3 linked regions of the Homo sapiens genome follow. The protein of the gene in region 3 purifies or fractionates together with the protein of the main gene of each other region. This does not show direct contact. Each region holds a gene or a part of one and is shown on either strand. Other genes may lie near its edges.

Region 1 (7,128 bases), on a different chromosome or scaffold from region 3:
ATGCAAAACCTGAGTATACAGAGGGACAACTGTTTGTATCTGCAGGTTCCACAGGGCTGACTGTGGGACTTGAGTATGGAAGGATTTTGGGGTTTTTTGTTTTGTTTTGTTTTGTTTTTTGAGACAGAGTCTTGCTCTGTTGCCCAGGCTGGAGTGCAGTGGCAGGATCTCAGCTCAATGCAACCTCCACCTCCAGAGGTCAAGTAATTATTGTGCCTCAGCCTCCTGTAGCTGGGATTACAGGCACCCACCATCATGCCCGGCTAATTTTTTTTTTTTTTTTTTTTTGAGGCAGAGTCTCGCTCTGTCACCCAGGCTGGAGTGCAGTGGTGCGATCTCGGCTCACTGCAAGCTCTGCCTCCCAGGTTCACACCATTCTCCTGCCTCAGTCCCCTGAGTAGCTGGGACTACAGGTGCCTGCCACCATGCACGGCTAATTTTTTTTTTTTTTTGTATTTTTAGTAGAGGCGGGATTTCACTATGTTAGCCAGGATGGTCTCGATCTCCTGACCTCGTGATCCGCTCACTTTGGCCTCCCAAAGTGCTGGGATTATGGACGTGAGCCACCGTGCCCGGCCATGCCCAGCTAATTTTTGTATTTTTGTAGAGATGGGGTTTCACCATGTTGGCCAGGCTGATCTTGAACTCTTGACCTCAGGTGATCCGCCCGCCTCTACCTCCCAAAGTGCAAGGATTACAGGAACGAGCCATCATGCTCAGCCTCACACCTGGCTAATTTTTGTATTTTTAGTAGAGATGCGGTTTTACCATGTTGGCCAGGCTGGTCAACGACTGCATTCTTATAATATTAAGTTGATGAGCCTGGCACAGTGGCTCACACCTATAATCCTAGGACTTTAGGGGGCCTAGAACTTTGGGAACACCTGAGGTCAGGAGTTCGAGACCAGCCTGACCAACATGGAGAAACCCCATGTCTACTAAAAATACAAAATTAGCCAGGTGTGGTGGTACATGCCTGTAATCCCAGCTACTTGGGAGGCTGAAGCAGGAGAATCTCTTGAACCCGGGAGGCGGAGGCTGTGGTGAGCCGAGATTGCACCATTGCACTGCAGCCTGGGCAACAAGAGTGAAACTCCATCTCAAAAAAAAAAAAAAAGTTGATGATTGCAAAAAAGGTCTTTCCTCTGGGATGTTGCACCCATGCACCCACCCAGTAACTGTGTGTCTGTCCACCTCACCTGCCTGCCAGAGGGTGACCGGAAGGCTTTTTTTGAGAGCTCTCAGTGGAACATCAAGAAGAACCAGGAGACCATCAGTCAGCTCCGCAAGGAGACTAAGGCACTGGAACTAAAGCTGCTGGACCTGCTCAAGGTAAGGGGCAAAGGGGTGGGTGTAGGGTTCCCGTGGCGGTGGATGGTGGGGGACAAGTAGGTAGCACCTGGCCTTAGCTGGAGGTGGCATGCTGAAAGGTGACTGGACTTCCCTCCTTGCAGGGAGATGAGAAAGTGGTCCAGGCAGTGATTCGCGAATGGAAGTGGGAGAAGCCATACCTGAAGAACAGGACAGGACAGGTTTGCCCACCCTCGCCCCACCTCCTCCTTCATTTCCAGCCTGGGTCCCCTCACCACTGGACTCCAGGCTCACCCTCTCCAATCCTTCCTGCACACTAGCTGCCATTCATGTGCTCATTCAATTAAATCTTTATTACTCACTTTCCTTGTATCTGGCATCCTGGCATGGTAGTAAATGCAGTGAAAAAGCAGACCAAGTCTCCACTTCTAAAAACAGCTCATATCCTAATAGGGAAAACAAGTTAAAAAAAAAAACATCACAGCCAGGCGCGGTGGCCCACGTCTGTAATCACAGCACTTTGGGAGGCCAAGGCGGGCAGATGACCTGAAGTCGGGAGTTCAAGACCAACCTGACCAACATGGAGAAACCCTGTCTCTACTAAAAATACAAAACTTAGCTGGGCATGATGGCACGTGCCTGTAATCCCAGCTACTCGGGAGGCTGAGGCAGGAGAATCGCTTGAACCCGGGAGGCAGAGGTTGCAGTGAGCCGAGATTGTGCCATTACACTCCAGCCTGGGCAACAAGAGCGAAACTCCGTCTCAAAAAATAAATAAAATAAAAATAATTAAAAAAAATAAAACATTTTAAAAGTCATTGAACCCAAGAGGCAGAGGTTGTAGTAAGCTGAGGTTGTGCCACTGTGCTCCAGCCTGGGAGACAGAGTGAGACTCAGTCTCAAAACAAACAAACGAAAACAATGACCAGTGGCACATGCCTGTAATCCCAGCTATTCAGGAGGCTGAGGCTGGAGGATTGCATGAGCCTAGAAGTTTGAGACTATAATGAGCCACAATTGCACCACTGCACTCCAGCCTGAGTGACAGTACAACCTGTTTCTTTAAAAAAAAAAAAAAAAAAGGCTGGGCGCGGTGGCTCACGCCCGTAATCCCAGCACTTTGGGAAACCGAGGCGGGTGGATCACGAGGTCAGGAGATCGAGCCCATCCTGGCTAACACGGTGAAACCCCGTCTCTACTAAAAATACAAAAGGCCGGGCGCGGTGGCTCATGCCTGTAATCCCAGCACTTTGGGAGGCCGAGGTGGGTGGATCACAAGGTCAGGAGTTCTAGACCAGCCTGGCCAAGATGGTGAAACCCTGTTTTTACTAAAAATACAAAAATTAGCCAGGTGTGGTGGCAGGCACCTGTAATCCCAGCTACTCAGGAGGCTGAGGCACAGAATTGCTTGAACCCAAGAGGCAGAAGTTGCAGTGAGCTGAGATCGCACCACTGCACTCCAGTCTGGGCGACAGAGTGAGACTCTGTCTCAAAAATAAATACATAAATAAAAAATAAAATAAAAATAAAAATACAAAAAATTAGCCAGGCATGGTGGTGGGCGCCTGTAGTCCCAGCTACTCAGGAGTCTGAGGCAGGAGAACAGTTTGAACCCGGGAGGCGGAGCTTGCAGTGAGCTGAGACTGGTGCCACTGCACTCCAACCTGGGTGACAGAGCGAGACTCTGTCTCAAAAAAACAAAAACAAACAAACAAACAAAAACAAAAGATAAAAAATTAAAGGCCGGGCGCGGTGGCTCACGCCTGTAATCCCAGCACTTTGGGAGGCTGAGGCGGGCGGATCACCTGAGGTCGGGCGTTTGAGACCAGCCTGGCCAACATGGCGAAACCCCGTCTCTACTAAAAATACAAAAAATTAGCCGGGCATGGTGGTGCATGCTTGTAATCCCAGCTACTCAGGAGGCTGACGCAGGAGAATCCCTTGAACCCGGGAGGTGGAGGTTGCTGTGAGCCGAGATCATGCCATTGCACTCCAGCCTGGGCAACTCTGTCTCAAAATAAATAAATAAATAAATAAATAAATAAATAAATAAATAAAAAATAAAACACAGTCTAGGCATGGTGGCTCATGCCTTGTAATACCAGCACTTTGGGAGGCCAAGGCTGGAGGATCACTTGAGCCCAAGAGTTTGAGACCAGCCTGCCAACATAGTGAAACTTTGACTCTACAACAAATACAGAAGATTTGCCAAATGTGGTGGCACAGGATTGTAGTCCCAGCTACTTGCCAGGCTGAGGTGGGAGGATCACCTGAACTGGGGAGGTCGAGGCTGCAGTGAGTCATGTTCGTGCCACTGCACTCCCGTCCGGGTGACAAAGCAAGGCCTTGTCTGAAAAAATAATTATAAAAATTAAAAGGCTGGGCGTGATGGCTCACGTCTGTAATCCTAGTACTTTGGGAGGCCAAGGCAGGTGGATCACTTGAGCTCAGAAGTTCATGACCAGCCTGGGCAACATGATGAAACCCTGTCTCTACCAAAAATACAAAAACGTACCCAGGCGTCGTGGCATGCATCTGTGGTCCCAGCAACTGAGGACGCTGAGGAGGAAGGATCACTTGAGCTCAAGGGGCGGAGGTTGCAGTGAGCCAAGATCGAGCCACTGCACTCCAGCCTGAGTGACAGGGTGAGACCCCATCTCAAAAAACAAAACAAAACAAAACTGGGCTGGGTGCAGTGGCTCTTGCCTGTAATCTCAGCACTTTGGGAGGCCGAGGAAGGAGGATGGCTTGGGCCCAGGAATTCGCGACCAGCCTGAGCCACATAGCGAGACCCTGCCTCTATAATTTTTTTTTTTTTTTGAGACAGAGTCTCGCACTGTCGCCCAGTATGGAGTGCAGTGGCACGATCTTGGCTCACTGCAAGCTCCGCCTCCCGGGTTCTCGCCATTCTTCTGCCTCAGCCTCCTGAGTAGCTGGGACTACAGGCGCCTGCCACCATGCCCGGCTAATTTTTTGTATTTTTAGTAGAGACGGGGTTTTACCGTGTTAGCCAGGATGGTCTCGATGTCCTGACCTCGTGATCCACCCGCCTTGGCCTCCCAAAGTGCTGGGATTACAGGCGGGAGCCACCGCGCCCAGCCTAAAACATTTTTTAAAAGAAAAAAATGGCCAGAAGATAGCTGGGTGAGGTGGCTCACGTCTGTAATCCCAGCACTTTCGGAGGCCGAGGCAGGTGGATCACCTGAAGTCAGGCGTTTGAGACCAGCCTGGTCAACGTGGTGAAACCCTGTCTCTACCCAAAATACAAAAATTAGCCGGGTGTAGTGGCACATGCCTGTAATCCCAGCTACTTGGGAGGCTGAGGCAGGAGAATTGCTTGAACCTAGGAGATGGAAGTTGCAGTGAGCCGAGATCGTGCCACTACACTTCAGCCTGGGCGACAGAGCGAGACTCCGTTTCAAAAAAAAAAAAAAAAGAAAAGAAAACAAAAACAAAAATTAGCCAGGCGTGGTGGTGGGCACCTGTAATCCCAGCTACTCGGGAGGTTGAGGCAGGAGAATGGCGTGAACCCAGGAGGAGGAGGTTGCAGTGAGCCGAGATTGCACCACAGCACTCCAGCCTGGGTGTCAGAGCAAGACTCCGTCTAAAAAAAAAAAAACGAAAGAAAGAAAAATTTAAAAATATTTTTTTAGAACCCTGAGCCGGTGTAAGATCGCCAAGGTGGTCGATATAGACAGAGAGAAGACTCCGGTGCTCTCTCTACAAAAACAACACAGAAGGGGTGGCCAGGGAGGTGGGTAGAAAACGGGAGAGGGGAGTCCTGGAAGCCACAGTGTGGGAGAAGGAAGGGAGGAAGGGCTAGGTGTGTGTCGGGGTAGGGTGTTGAGGCTCCTGCTTTCGCTCCCCTCCTTGCGGCAGGCCCTGGAGCACCTAGACCACCGGCTGAGGGAGAAGGTGAAGCAGCAGAACGCCCTGCGGCACCAGGTGGTGTTGCGGCAGAGGCGGCTGGAGGAGCTCCAGCTGCAGCACAGCCTGCGCCTTCTGGAGATGGCGGAGGCGCAAAACAGACACACGGAGGTGGCCAAGGTAGGGGCGGGTGAGGCCTGCAGGGCAGAGGGTCGTGTGGGAGGGATTGAGTGCGGAGGGCCCTCAGCCCAGCCCTGCTGCTCTCCAGACCATGCGGAACCTGGAGAACCGCCTGGAGAAGGCCCAGATGAAGGCGCAGGAGGCCGAGCACATTACCAGCGTGTACCTGCAGCTCAAGGCCTATCTAATGGTAGGGACTAGGAGGGCTCGGGTGAGATGACAAACAGGGAGGGCGGGCTTGGCTAGGGACAGCAGTCACAGACCTGCACCATCTCCGCTACCCCTCCCCACCACGCCCCAGGACGAGAGCCTCAACTTGGAGAACCGGCTGGACTCCATGGAGGCTGAGGTGGTGAGGACCAAACATGAGCTGGAGGCACTGCACGTGGTGAACCAAGAGGCCCTCAATGCCCGGGACATTGCCAAGGTGCCACCCCTCTTGCCCTCGGCCATCCTGCCCAGCTGCCGCGGTCTCCCAGCTTGAGAATCTGACCTCAGCTGTCCCTGAGCTTCCCCTACGCCCCCGCCCCCATCTATCTCCCAGCACCCTGCGGCGGGCAGTGGTAGGTGCCAGCTGGTCTCCCTGCTACCCTGCCCGCCCTCCAGAACCAGCTGCAGTACCTAGAGGAGACCTTGGTTCGAGAGCGCAAGAAGCGGGAACGCTACATAAGTGAGTGCAAGAAGCGCGCCGAGGAGAAGAAACTGGAGAACGAGCGCATGGAGCGCAAGGTGGGCGCACCCAGGGGTGCGCGCCTGTGACTCCAGCCCAGCCCAGCACAAACCAGCCATGCCCTGGCTCTCCCTCATCCTAGGCCTTCTCCCATTTTCTGTTTCTCCTAACCCCGCCCCCTCTCTGACTCCACCCCCACTTGGTGCGAAGACCCCTCCCACATCCCTGACCCCGCCTCTCCTCCCCTCCCCTCCTAAGCGACTGCACCATTTTGGCTCTGACATGGCCTCCAGCCTTCCCCTTACTCAGTGACCCCCCTACCCATCCTTTCCCACCTGACTAGACTGCCTGTCCTGAATCTGACCGTGCCTCTGAGCCAACCGTTGCCTAAGGCCCTGCCCCCTCACTCTTGGCCCCGCCCCTGCACCTGCCCTGAGGCTGCCTCCCATCCAGCCCTCACCAAAGCCCTGTCCTGCCTTTTTGTTTTTTGGGTTGTTGTTGTTGTAGTTGTTGTTTGATAGGTTTTTTTTGCATATATATATATATATATACGTATATACATATATATACATATATGCATATATGCATATATACACACACATATATACACATATACATACATATATACATACATACACACATATATACATATATACATACATACACACATATATACATATATACATATATACACACATATATACATATATACATATATACACACATATATACATATATACACACACATATATGTATATATACATATACACATATGTGTATATACACATATATGTATATATACATATACACATATGTACATACACACATATATACACATATGTACATATACACATATATACATATATACACATATGTACATATACACATATGTACACATACACATATATACACATATGTACATATACACACATATACACATATGTACATATACATATATACACATATGTACATATACACACATATATACACATATGTACACATACACATATGTATATATACACATATGTACATATACACATATGTATATATACATATGTACATATACACATATACACATATGTACATATACACATATATAC
Region 2 (7,128 bases), on a different chromosome or scaffold from region 3:
CTTCATCAAGGACATTCTTAGGCGAAGTGGCATTTTTTTTTTCCTGCAAGTATATGGCAGTGGGGATTGTAATGATGACTAGTATAGTTTGGTGCCTAAATTCGAGTGAAAGCACCAGCACTTTTACCCATTGTTGCTTTTGCACCATCAGTGCAAATGTTAGTCAACACAGTGAAAGATGTCTTAATAGTATGATGAAAATAGTTGTGACCCCATGGGCTTTGGGAACCCTCAAAGATGTCTCCAGATCACACTTTGGGAACGCTGTTCTGAATCCATATTATAAATACAAATTATATGAGTGAGGCTTAAAACTTCAGTGTTTTATTTTAACAAAGTATGCTTGCTTTTAAATTTCAGCAGTTTCCCATCTTTTATGACATTTTTAAAGATTTTTAGGAGAAAATTATAGGCTGAAATAGTCATCAATCTTGCAAGTGACAAATATTTTATTAGGCAAAATGAAAAACAATTCACATCAGGAAAATTGGAAAGAAATCAACTTCACCCATTTTGTTGTTTGATTATGTTTCCTGAAAAATATATTCAGGTCCTAAACTAGACTATAACTCTGAGGGTTCCTAGTACTAAGTGCATGGATCAATTGTTTGTCTAAATAGAGTTTAATCAAATTCTTCTTTAGGCTAGGTTTAATCAAATTCTTTAGGCTGGGTGTGGTGGCTCATGCCTGTAATCCCAATGCTTTGGGAGGCCAAGGCAGGTGGATCACTTGAGGTCAGGAGTTTGAGACCAGCCTGGCCAATATAGTGAAACCCTATCTCTACTAAAAATACAAAAAAATCAGCTGGACGTGGTGCCCCGTGCCTGTAATCCCAGCTACTCAGGAGGCTGAGGCAGGGAGAATCGCTTGAACCTGGGAGACGGAGGTTGCAGTGAGTGGAGATCGCACCACCGCACTCCGGCCTGAGTGACAGAGCAAGACTCTGTCTCAAATATGTATATGTATATATATATACACACATGCACACACACACACACACACACACACACACACACACACACATATATATTCTTCTTTAATAAAGTAGTGAATATTTATTCATTTATTTAAGCAGTACCTACTGAGTACCACTCTTAAGTACCTCCAATGAATCAAACAGACAAAAATCCCTATCTTCATGGACTTCGTATTCTAGTGGGAAGAAACGGACAGTGAACAATAACAACAATAAGTAAATTATACAGCATGTTAGAAAAGTGCAATGGAAAAGAGAGGAAAAGGAGATCAACTATAGGGACACAGGGAAGTGTTGGAAGTCTCAAATGAATGATCAAGATAAGGTTCATTGAGAAGATGAGGAATGAGTTTCAGCTACTTGCGGGGCTGAGGTGGGAGGATCGCTTGAGCTCAGGCAGAGGTTGCAGTGAACCGACATCCTGCCACAGCACTCCAGCCCTGGGTGACAGAGTGAGACCCCATCTCAAGAAAAAAAGAGAGATTAGGAGACATGACAAGCAAATGCAATATGTAGACCTTGTTTGGACCCTTTTTAAAGAAACAAACCAACTGTTAGAAGATTTTTTTTTAATAAATGGGGAACTTTAAGTATAAACTATTAGATGATATTAAGGAATTATTAATGTTTAAATGTGATAAGGTGAAGAGGATGGAAAAAATAGATTGGCAAAATGTTGGTAATTTTGAAATGGGTATATGGTGGTTTGTTTAATGATTATGTCTTCTAATTTCCCATAGCAAGATTTTTTAAAAAGACATTAGTTATAATTTAGAAAAATTTTGAAAAGTGGGGAAATGTATTTGGAAGCACATATAGTCACATATATGTGCACAGTTAGCTGTCCTTATCCATGGGTCTGACATCTTTGGATTCAACTCATCAAAATATTAAATATTTTTTAAAATTGTGTCTATACTGAACATGTGTAGCCTTTTTTTTTTTGTCTTTTTTACTTGCAGACTTTTTTGTATCGTTATTCCCTAAACATTACAATATAACAACTAATTACATTGTATTAGGTATTATAGGTAATCTAGAGATGATTTAAAGTATACGAGAGATTTACATGGGTTATATGCAAGTATTACTCCATTTTATGTAAGGGACTTGAGTATCCTTGGATTTTGGTATCATGGGAGGTCCTGAAACCAATCTCCCACAGATACTTCTATACTTCTCTGTGATCTTAATGAATACTTAAGGAAAAAGTAAAATGTATAAGTTTGAATTTACTCACCCAGTGAGTAGCCATTTAATGTCTTTATATTTTCTTTGTAAAGAAGTAATAGATTAGATTTTGAAATGTGGTTTTCTTTTGGCTAAATTGTAGATTTTCCTTTTTAAAGGAAACAAAAACAGCCTAAGCTTCCTTCAGAGTCTTAGGATATTTGGGTAGATAAAGGTATAATTGACAATTGTCATAAAATAGGCTATTGTCAATACCTTTTTAAAAAATTCTCTTTTTAATATTTTCTTGTAGCACAACAAATCAGAAGCTCTGGGCTGTAGAACTTCAGAAGACAATCTCCAGAGACAACAAGTATGTGCTGCTGGCTTCTGAACAGTTGGTGGGCGTCTGTTTGTTTGTTTTTATCAGACCACAGCATGCTCCTTTTATCAGGTCAGTAAACAGAACACTCCTCTAAGGCTACTTCCTACCATTAAATAACAAGAAAAAAGCCTAGAATGTTTATTGTTTCAGTTCTTCAAACAAAAACTATCCATAGTTCTTGTTTTAAAATGGGGTTTTGGGGGTTTTGATTAAAGACTCACCAATAGCTTCACTGTACTATTTCAAAGGCTTGCCCTCAAAGTACCATACCATGTGTACTTAAATGATTATGTATATTCCTCATTTCCTATGCACATGGAACTCTTGAAATTTCAAATCTGCGATTTAGAATTCTTTGTTTCAAAGGGATGTTGCAGTTGATACTGTGAAGACTGGAATGGGAGGTGCAACTGGAAATAAGGGAGCAGTTGCAATCCGAATGCTCTTCCATACAACCAGCCTTTGCTTCGTCTGTAGCCACTTTGCTGCAGGGCAGTCACAAGTCAAAGAAAGAAATGAAGATTTTATAGAAATAGCACGAAAATTGAGTTTTCCTATGGTAAGCTCTTGCTGCTTGTTCTTGAAGATAAAGCTTTGAAATATATTTTAATTTGCCCCAAATTCTACATCAATGTTTTTGGAAATTTAAGATAGTTCCTAGAAACATTAAGAATATTCACCTAAATAGATATTTCATGAGTATTAACCCAAAATATCTGAGACAGGGCTCAGTCAATTTAGAAAGTTTATTTTGCCAAGGTTAAGGATGTGGCCATGATATAGCCTCCAGAATTCAGAATGACATGTGCCCAAGGTGGTCGGGGGTACAGTTTGCTTTTATACATTTTAGGGAGACCTGAGACATCAGTCAGTATGTGTATGATGTACACTGGTTTGGTCTGGTAAGGCAGGACAACTCGAAGTGGGGGCTTCCAGGTTAGAAGTAGATAAGACGCAAAAGGTTGCATTCTTTTAAGTCCTAGATCAGCCTTCCACTGAATACACAATTTAGTGTGGCTCAGTGAATCTGCATTTTTGCATAAACAATAGGGCAGAGGAAGCAGTCAGATGTGCATTTGTCTCAGGTGAGTCTCAGAGGGATGACTTTGAGTTCAGTCTATACTTTGTCCACAAGGAATTTCCTGTGGGCAAATTGTGAGGGAGTTATGTAGCTTCTTATCTTTGGAGCTATCTTATTTAGGAGTAAAATGGGAGGCAGGTTTACCTGTCATAGTTCCTGGCTTGATTTTTCTCTGGGCTTAGTGATTTTGGGGTCCTGAGATTTATTTTCGTTTCACATGTGTTATTACTGTTGGGTCAAAGAAACAGGACATGGGAGGAGACAAGCATATCTCAGGCAAAGAAATAGTTGTAAAACATTTTTGAACATTGATTGTTTTGAATTTAAAATTCTATCTCATTGCTTTCAGGGAAGGATGCTATTTTCCCATGACTATGTATTTTGGTGTGGTGATTTCAACTATCGAATCGATCTCCCTAACGAAGAAGTTAAAGAGCTCATAAGACAGCAAAATTGGGATTCTCTTATAGCAGGAGATCAACTTATCAATCAGAAAAATGCTGGACAGGTATATCTATACTTGAGAAAATACTTGCATTAAGATTTTGGGTCGTGAAACATGCCTTTTTAAATCAAGATGTTTTAAAATTTTCTTGGGGTCTTTTTGTACTTAAATATGCATCTGTAGGTAAACAGATAATAGAATTATCTTTCCTTAAAGTGTAGCAGGATGAGCTGCAGACAAGAACCCTTCAGACACCAAGTTGTAGAAGGAAAGGGCTTTATTCAGCTGGGAGCAGCAGCGGACTCACGTCTCCAAAAACCGAGCTCCCCGAGTGAGCAATTCCTGTCCCTTTTAAGGGCTTACAGCTCTAAGGGAGTCCATGTGAGAGGGTCGTGATCGATTGAGCAAGCAGGGGGTATGGGACTGGGGGCTGCATGCACTGGTAATCAGAATGGAACAGGACAGGGATTTTCACGATGCTTTTCCATACAATGTCTGAAATCTATAGATAGCACAAGCGGTTAGGTCAAGGGTTGATTTTTAACTACCAGGCCCAGGGCACAGTGCTGGGCTATCTGCCTGTGATTCCATTTCTGCCTTTTAGTTTTCACTTCTTTCTTTGGAGGCAGAAATTGGGCATAAGACAATATGAGGGGTGGTCTCCTCCCTTATTCCCCCCTTTGAGAACTTCACTCATTAATGGGAGTTCTCACTTTCATCCTCATTACCCATGTCTTCTTGCAAGACAGATTGATAGTGATTCATATGGTACACTTGCGCTGAAGCATTTTGGTGAGCTAAGGTAGTGATGAAGCTTTTTATCATTTGAAGAAGTACAAGTAGCAAACAAGGGAGCAGTAAGCAGGTTCCTATTACTATTATAACTCCTATTATAAGAGTTTTAAATCCTCCTAGCACTGGGAACCATTTTTCAAACATGGCCCCCGGATCAAATCCATGCCACACTTGCACAGGCACATGTGTCAGTTTTGTCATATCTCTAATTATGTCTTCAACTACTTGCCCTTCATCATCTGTGTATAGACAGCAATTAGTAAGGTTAAATTTCCCACAGACCCCCACCTTCAGCTGCTAGCAAGTAGTCGAGAGCCAATCTATTTTGATAGATAGCATTTCTCATCTGAGACTCTTGCCAGGGCAGTATAGTCAAGGCTCTGCCAGTTTTATTAGTGATTATTTCTAAGACAGCTTGTAACCGTATGATTCGGTTGAGCATGTAAATGGGGGTCCAGTATCCCCACGAGCCATCTTGTGCCCAAGTAGCAGGTCTGTAATATTGTATGATTCTCTCAGGGGGCCATTCATCATCTTTCCAATTTCCTATAGCTATGCTTCTCTTTTCTCGGGCAGCATAGACAGGGAAACCCAGGAGTTTGCCTGTCTTTATGGGCAGTAGGAAGAAAGATGGTTTAATAGTGCCAATAACACAACTACCTGTCCACTGGTTGGATAATTTGGCACAAGCTCTATGCCCACATATACAGTATAATCCAGTGGGGGCTGTCCAGTCCTGGTGGGACTCCGGATGGGTCCACACGGTTTGCAACTTTGGGAATTTACTAAATGGATTCCTTTCTGTGTGATTTGAACTCCACCAAGTGACTGTTTTTGTGGTACCATTATACAGTTTCTGTCCCAGACAACTAAGTCATCCTACGGGGTGAGTGAATTCTTTTCCTTCTCCAGCTATGCAATATTGTCCAATAATTGAGGTTTTTAGGACCCAGAAATTATCAGGGTGATTCTTTTGAGCTGGGAATTCATCAGGAACTGGGTCTGTAGGTACTAATTCTCGGGCTTCTCGTGGCCATTGATCTCCCATTACAGTTCCTCCACATACATAATGTGAAGCAACATTGAGAGACTAGGCTACATGCTTGGCTAATTGCAAAAACAAATTTCTTGTTTTTCCTGGAATTTCTGGTACTGGCACATTTAGTTCATCATAGAAAGTTTGAAGCACTGGCTCAGGAGAGTGTTTGTAAACTTCTCCTCGAACTAAGATATTTACTCGAGGATCCAGTCCAGCCCCATTGATTCCTAAGGTCACACGCTCCCCTTTTTTCCAGCGAGGATCAAGGGGATTGGTTATTACTAGCTCTAAGGGGTTACATTGTCCCTTAGTACAGGAAGGGCCACTTTTTCCTTTCTGAAGCTGCACTGGATCCTTTTCATTTTTTATCCAAGTGGCCCAAATGACACCAGTATCCACATTGATTTCCACACAGTCCTAATTCATGACAAATATACTTATTTTTGGTCATATAGCCTTTTTCCCAATCAAAAGCCACACCCCTTCCTAACTTATTGCTCTTAATGACAGCACAGGCATCAAATTTCAAGATTATGCGTTTGGGCACCCCTTTTTCTTCTGTTTTGGCTAATACTTGTATCATTTACAAGTCCCCATCAGTCTTCAGTCCTTAATCTTACTTCAAAAACTGTGGACCTGGGAGGCCACAGAGGGATCATAACACACATCTGGGCAGTCGTTTCCTAGGCTACATACCTCGTACTGAGTGTCATTATATAAACACGTTCCTTTTAAAGTTCCTAGGCATTCATAGTAACTATAGAACAGAAAGATTGTTTTAACTTGTTACCCTACCTCAGTAACCTGATGTATACACTGAGAGCAGTCTTCTATGCAGGGAAAATCAGTGGAAGTTTTTACTATACAAGTCCAAATTATAAGGAAAATGAGTCCCACGATGATTCTCCTCATGCCTCGGCCGTGCGTAGACCAGTCAGCTTCCGGGTGTGACTGGAGCAGGGCTTGTCATCCTCCTCAGAGTCACTTTCAGGAGTTGTCTGGGCTCGGTTTTGCCTCCCAAGTTTCAGCAGCTGCAGGTTTCACACGGCTGTGGTGGATCCAGGCTGGGATTCCTTCTCCTTTACAGCCGTGGGGGTGGTCAGGATGATGGTGTGAGGTCTTTTCCACTGTGGCCGCAAAGGGACTACGTTCCAGTCCTTGATCCACATGCGATCACTTGGAGAGAAAGGGTGAACTGGGGAGAATAAGCTGACGGGACACCTCTCATTTACCCAA
Region 3 (2,912 bases):
AGTCTGGTGGAACAAATGCCCAATCATGTGACCTTAAAGTGTACTGCAAAGCTGTAGCTTTAAGTAATTGCTGTTCTGCCACTGCTTACTCTGAAATCTACCATCAAAGAAAGATAGAGAAAAGGGGCTGAGCCTTGGAATATATGGTTATAAGCAGATCTTTCTTTGGTCAGAGACCAGGGTTTGAGCCAAGGCTGTAAATGTGAACAATAGCTGTGCAAAGCCTTTTAACCTGACTTCTTCATTTTGTAAATTATTATGCATTAAGTAGCAGCCCAATAATCTGATTTCTAGTTTTATTTTCAAAGTAAGTAGCTTCTTTTGGGAAAAACCTAAGTTAAACTAGTAGTTTTGCCATAATAACTGCTGATTTATGTATTTGCTAAAGGTACTTTTGTATCTGCTGTGTATTATAGCAATAAAATAATCATTTTGTTAGAAAAAAATCACCTGGTGTTCTTTTGTAATACACTGATCTGTTACAAACATCATCTTTCTGAATTCTGCATTGTTACATAACAAGCCCTACGCTTTAAACCTTTCTGTGTTCCCTGTTGGTAAGGGAAATGCCAGCTCCCTCTTAGAGTCGAGAGGGAAAGAGAAAAGAGAAAAACTGTTAAAAATGTTTTTATTTTTTAGTAAGCAAAATTTTACGAAAAGTCAGATTCACCCGTGGAGCCAGAACCTTCTTTCTCACGGGAAGACTGTGGTACCAGTGCGTGTTGGTCGGGTGGTTCATCATTAGTAAGCTCCCGTGGGCCAGCGGCAGCCTGACCACCGCCACCCTCCTGGAGGGGCTTTTCCCACGGGAATCCTTATGCCGGAAGACAAAGTCTCTGCAGGCACCGAAGGAGACAGAGGCAATGGGGCTCCCAGGGGCCAGTTCTCTTTCATCATCTCGGTGCTCCCCGATGTGGTCACAGCCATCTTTATACCTGCAATGAGAAAACAAACACAGTGCATAAAAACAACCCTCTCCTGAAACTCACCAGCACCGCCAGCCCTCGTTTTCCTCACAGTGTGAAACAGCACTCTGCATGGCTGTACCTGCCGTTGTTTCTGCGAGGGCTTGAGGTCCACAGTGGGCTCTAAGATAAGCCAACGCTGAAGAGGTCTGTTGACGTATTTGTTCATGTGACTTATTTATTATTATTTTTGAGAGGGTCTCGCTCTGTCACCCAGGCTGAAGTGCAGTGGCACAATCATAGCTCACTGCAGCCTCGGCCTCCTGGGCTCAAGTGATTCTCCCACTTCAGCCTCCCAAGTAGCTGGGACTATAGGTATGCACCACCCCACCTAGCTAATTTCTTTTCTTTTGCAGAAACAGTTTCACCATGTTACCCAGGCTGGTCTCAAACTCGGGCTCAAGCAATTCACTCTCCTTGGCCTCCCAAAGTGTTGGGATTACAGGCATGAGTCACCACGTCCGGCCAGTTCATGTGCTTTAAAACTGAAGACACCCAAAGCCAAAATCACGTCTTACTGTAGTTCCCCTGGCCAGTCTATGTAAACCTTTATCACATGATTTTGCCCTGCACTCAAAGGCCATACTCTGCATAGCCCGGCCCCTGCCCACTGCTGAGCTCATGCCATCCCCTTCTTTCCCTCATTCACTGCTTTCCGGCCATCCTGCAGCATTTTTGCTTCACAGACACTCCAGAGTCCCTCTGCTCTCCCTCCAGATGTCTGTGGCTGGCACTCTCCATTTAGTTATCAGCTCAAACGCACTGCCTCAGCCCTCCTCTAACCACCCCATCTGAAGTGACCTTCCCTTAAACCCACCCAGGGTTCTCCACCAGGGTGATTCTGCCCCAGGGGACAGGTATTGGGGGGTGGGGGACACTACTTGCAATCTAGTGGATGGAGGCCAGGGATCTGCTCAACATCCTGCAAGGCACAGGTCAGCCCCAACAACAACGAATGACTGGGCCCAAAATGTCTGCAGTGCTGCCGTTGAGAAACCTTGCCCTAATCGCAAACCTCTCAGCCATTCTCAGTCAAATCGGCCTGTTTAATTTTTTGCAAGATGGTTATCACTGTCTGAAATCGTCTAGGGTCAGGCATAGTCGTTCACGCCTGTAATCCCAGCACTTTGGGAGGCTGAGGTGGGAGGATCGCTTGAGCCTAGCAGTTTGAGACCAAGCCTGGGCAACATAGAAAAACCCTGTCTCAAAAAAAAAAAAGAAAGAAAAAGAGAAGAAGAAATTATCTCATTCAGCTGTTTGTTCAGGAGTTAATCACCTCTCACTTCCTACTCCGGGATGAGCTCCAGGATCCAGGAAGACCGAGTGCTGGCGCTATTCCACTCTTAGAGCCCCAGTGTACTAAGAAATGATTTGTACCAATGAACCAAATAGGGTGGAACCCTAAACACTTCCTTTTGGAGGAGACAGAAGACTTGTAACATTGAGTCCACTAAACAGGGTGTCACCTGTTGATGAGCACAAAGTTGAAGGTCTGTCCAGTCACCCCAGAGACGTGATCCCGGATGCGCTCTAGAACTGGGATCCAGGGCTTTGGAGACAGCGTGAGGCCTGAAAATGTGTAGGTCAGCCCAGCGTCGCCATACGTTGCCTGCTTCCTGGGCACACTGTGCCACTTCCCGAATACCTGGACTCTGGCCAGTGCTCCTGTGCAGAGGAAACATGGCAGTTCCTTTCTACCTGACCCCCATCTAGAAATCCAGATGCCCCCCCCAACCCGCACTGCCATCACCAGAAATCCAGTGCCCCACATACATGCTCCCTGGGTATTCAAGATTGAAAGGGAAGTAAGGAATAACATTTCCCCGTCATTCCATGCAATTTAAACCCCTCTTCAATCATCATTTTGGCTTGCCCCAAATTTTCTTTTTGTTTTGTTTTCTTTGAGACAGGGTCTCCCTGTGTCACCCAGGCTGGAGTACAGTAGCA

What was found.
Region 1: the proteins of ALKBH2 (region 3) and ODAD3 purify together in Homo sapiens (affinity purification with mass spectrometry; 2 studies listed by BioGRID and IntAct, with this or other methods). This does not show direct contact.
Region 2: the proteins of ALKBH2 (region 3) and SYNJ1 purify together in Homo sapiens (affinity purification with mass spectrometry; 2 studies listed by BioGRID and IntAct, with this or other methods). This does not show direct contact.

What each region holds. Positions count from the first base shown.
Region 1 is NC_000019.10:11,425,103-11,432,230, reverse strand, and holds part of ODAD3 (outer dynein arm-docking complex subunit 3), read left to right. Parts: intron 1-1,210; coding exon 1,211-1,332; intron 1,333-1,454; coding exon 1,455-1,532; intron 1,533-5,190; coding exon 5,191-5,358; intron 5,359-5,446; coding exon 5,447-5,548; intron 5,549-5,659; coding exon 5,660-5,785; intron 5,786-5,964; coding exon 5,965-6,087; intron 6,088-7,128. UniProt on the Homo sapiens protein: Component of the outer dynein arm-docking complex (ODA-DC) that mediates outer dynein arms (ODA) binding onto the doublet microtubule. Involved in mediating assembly of both ODAs and their axonemal docking complex onto ciliary microtubules.
Region 2 is NC_000021.9:32,661,906-32,669,033, reverse strand, and holds part of SYNJ1 (synaptojanin-1), read left to right. Parts: intron 1-2,460; coding exon 2,461-2,601; intron 2,602-2,898; coding exon 2,899-3,091; intron 3,092-3,962; coding exon 3,963-4,121; intron 4,122-4,317; exon of another isoform or gene 4,318-7,128. UniProt on the Homo sapiens protein: Phosphatase that acts on various phosphoinositides, including phosphatidylinositol 4-phosphate, phosphatidylinositol (4,5)-bisphosphate and phosphatidylinositol (3,4,5)-trisphosphate. Has a role in clathrin-mediated endocytosis.
Region 3 is NC_000012.12:109,087,578-109,090,489, forward strand, and holds the end of ALKBH2 (DNA oxidative demethylase ALKBH2), read right to left. Parts: intron 2,631-2,912; coding exon 2,432-2,630; intron 936-2,431; coding exon 629-935; 3' UTR 612-628; downstream 1-611. UniProt on the Homo sapiens protein: Dioxygenase that repairs alkylated nucleic acid bases by direct reversal oxidative dealkylation. Can process both double-stranded (ds) and single-stranded (ss) DNA substrates, with a strong preference for dsDNA.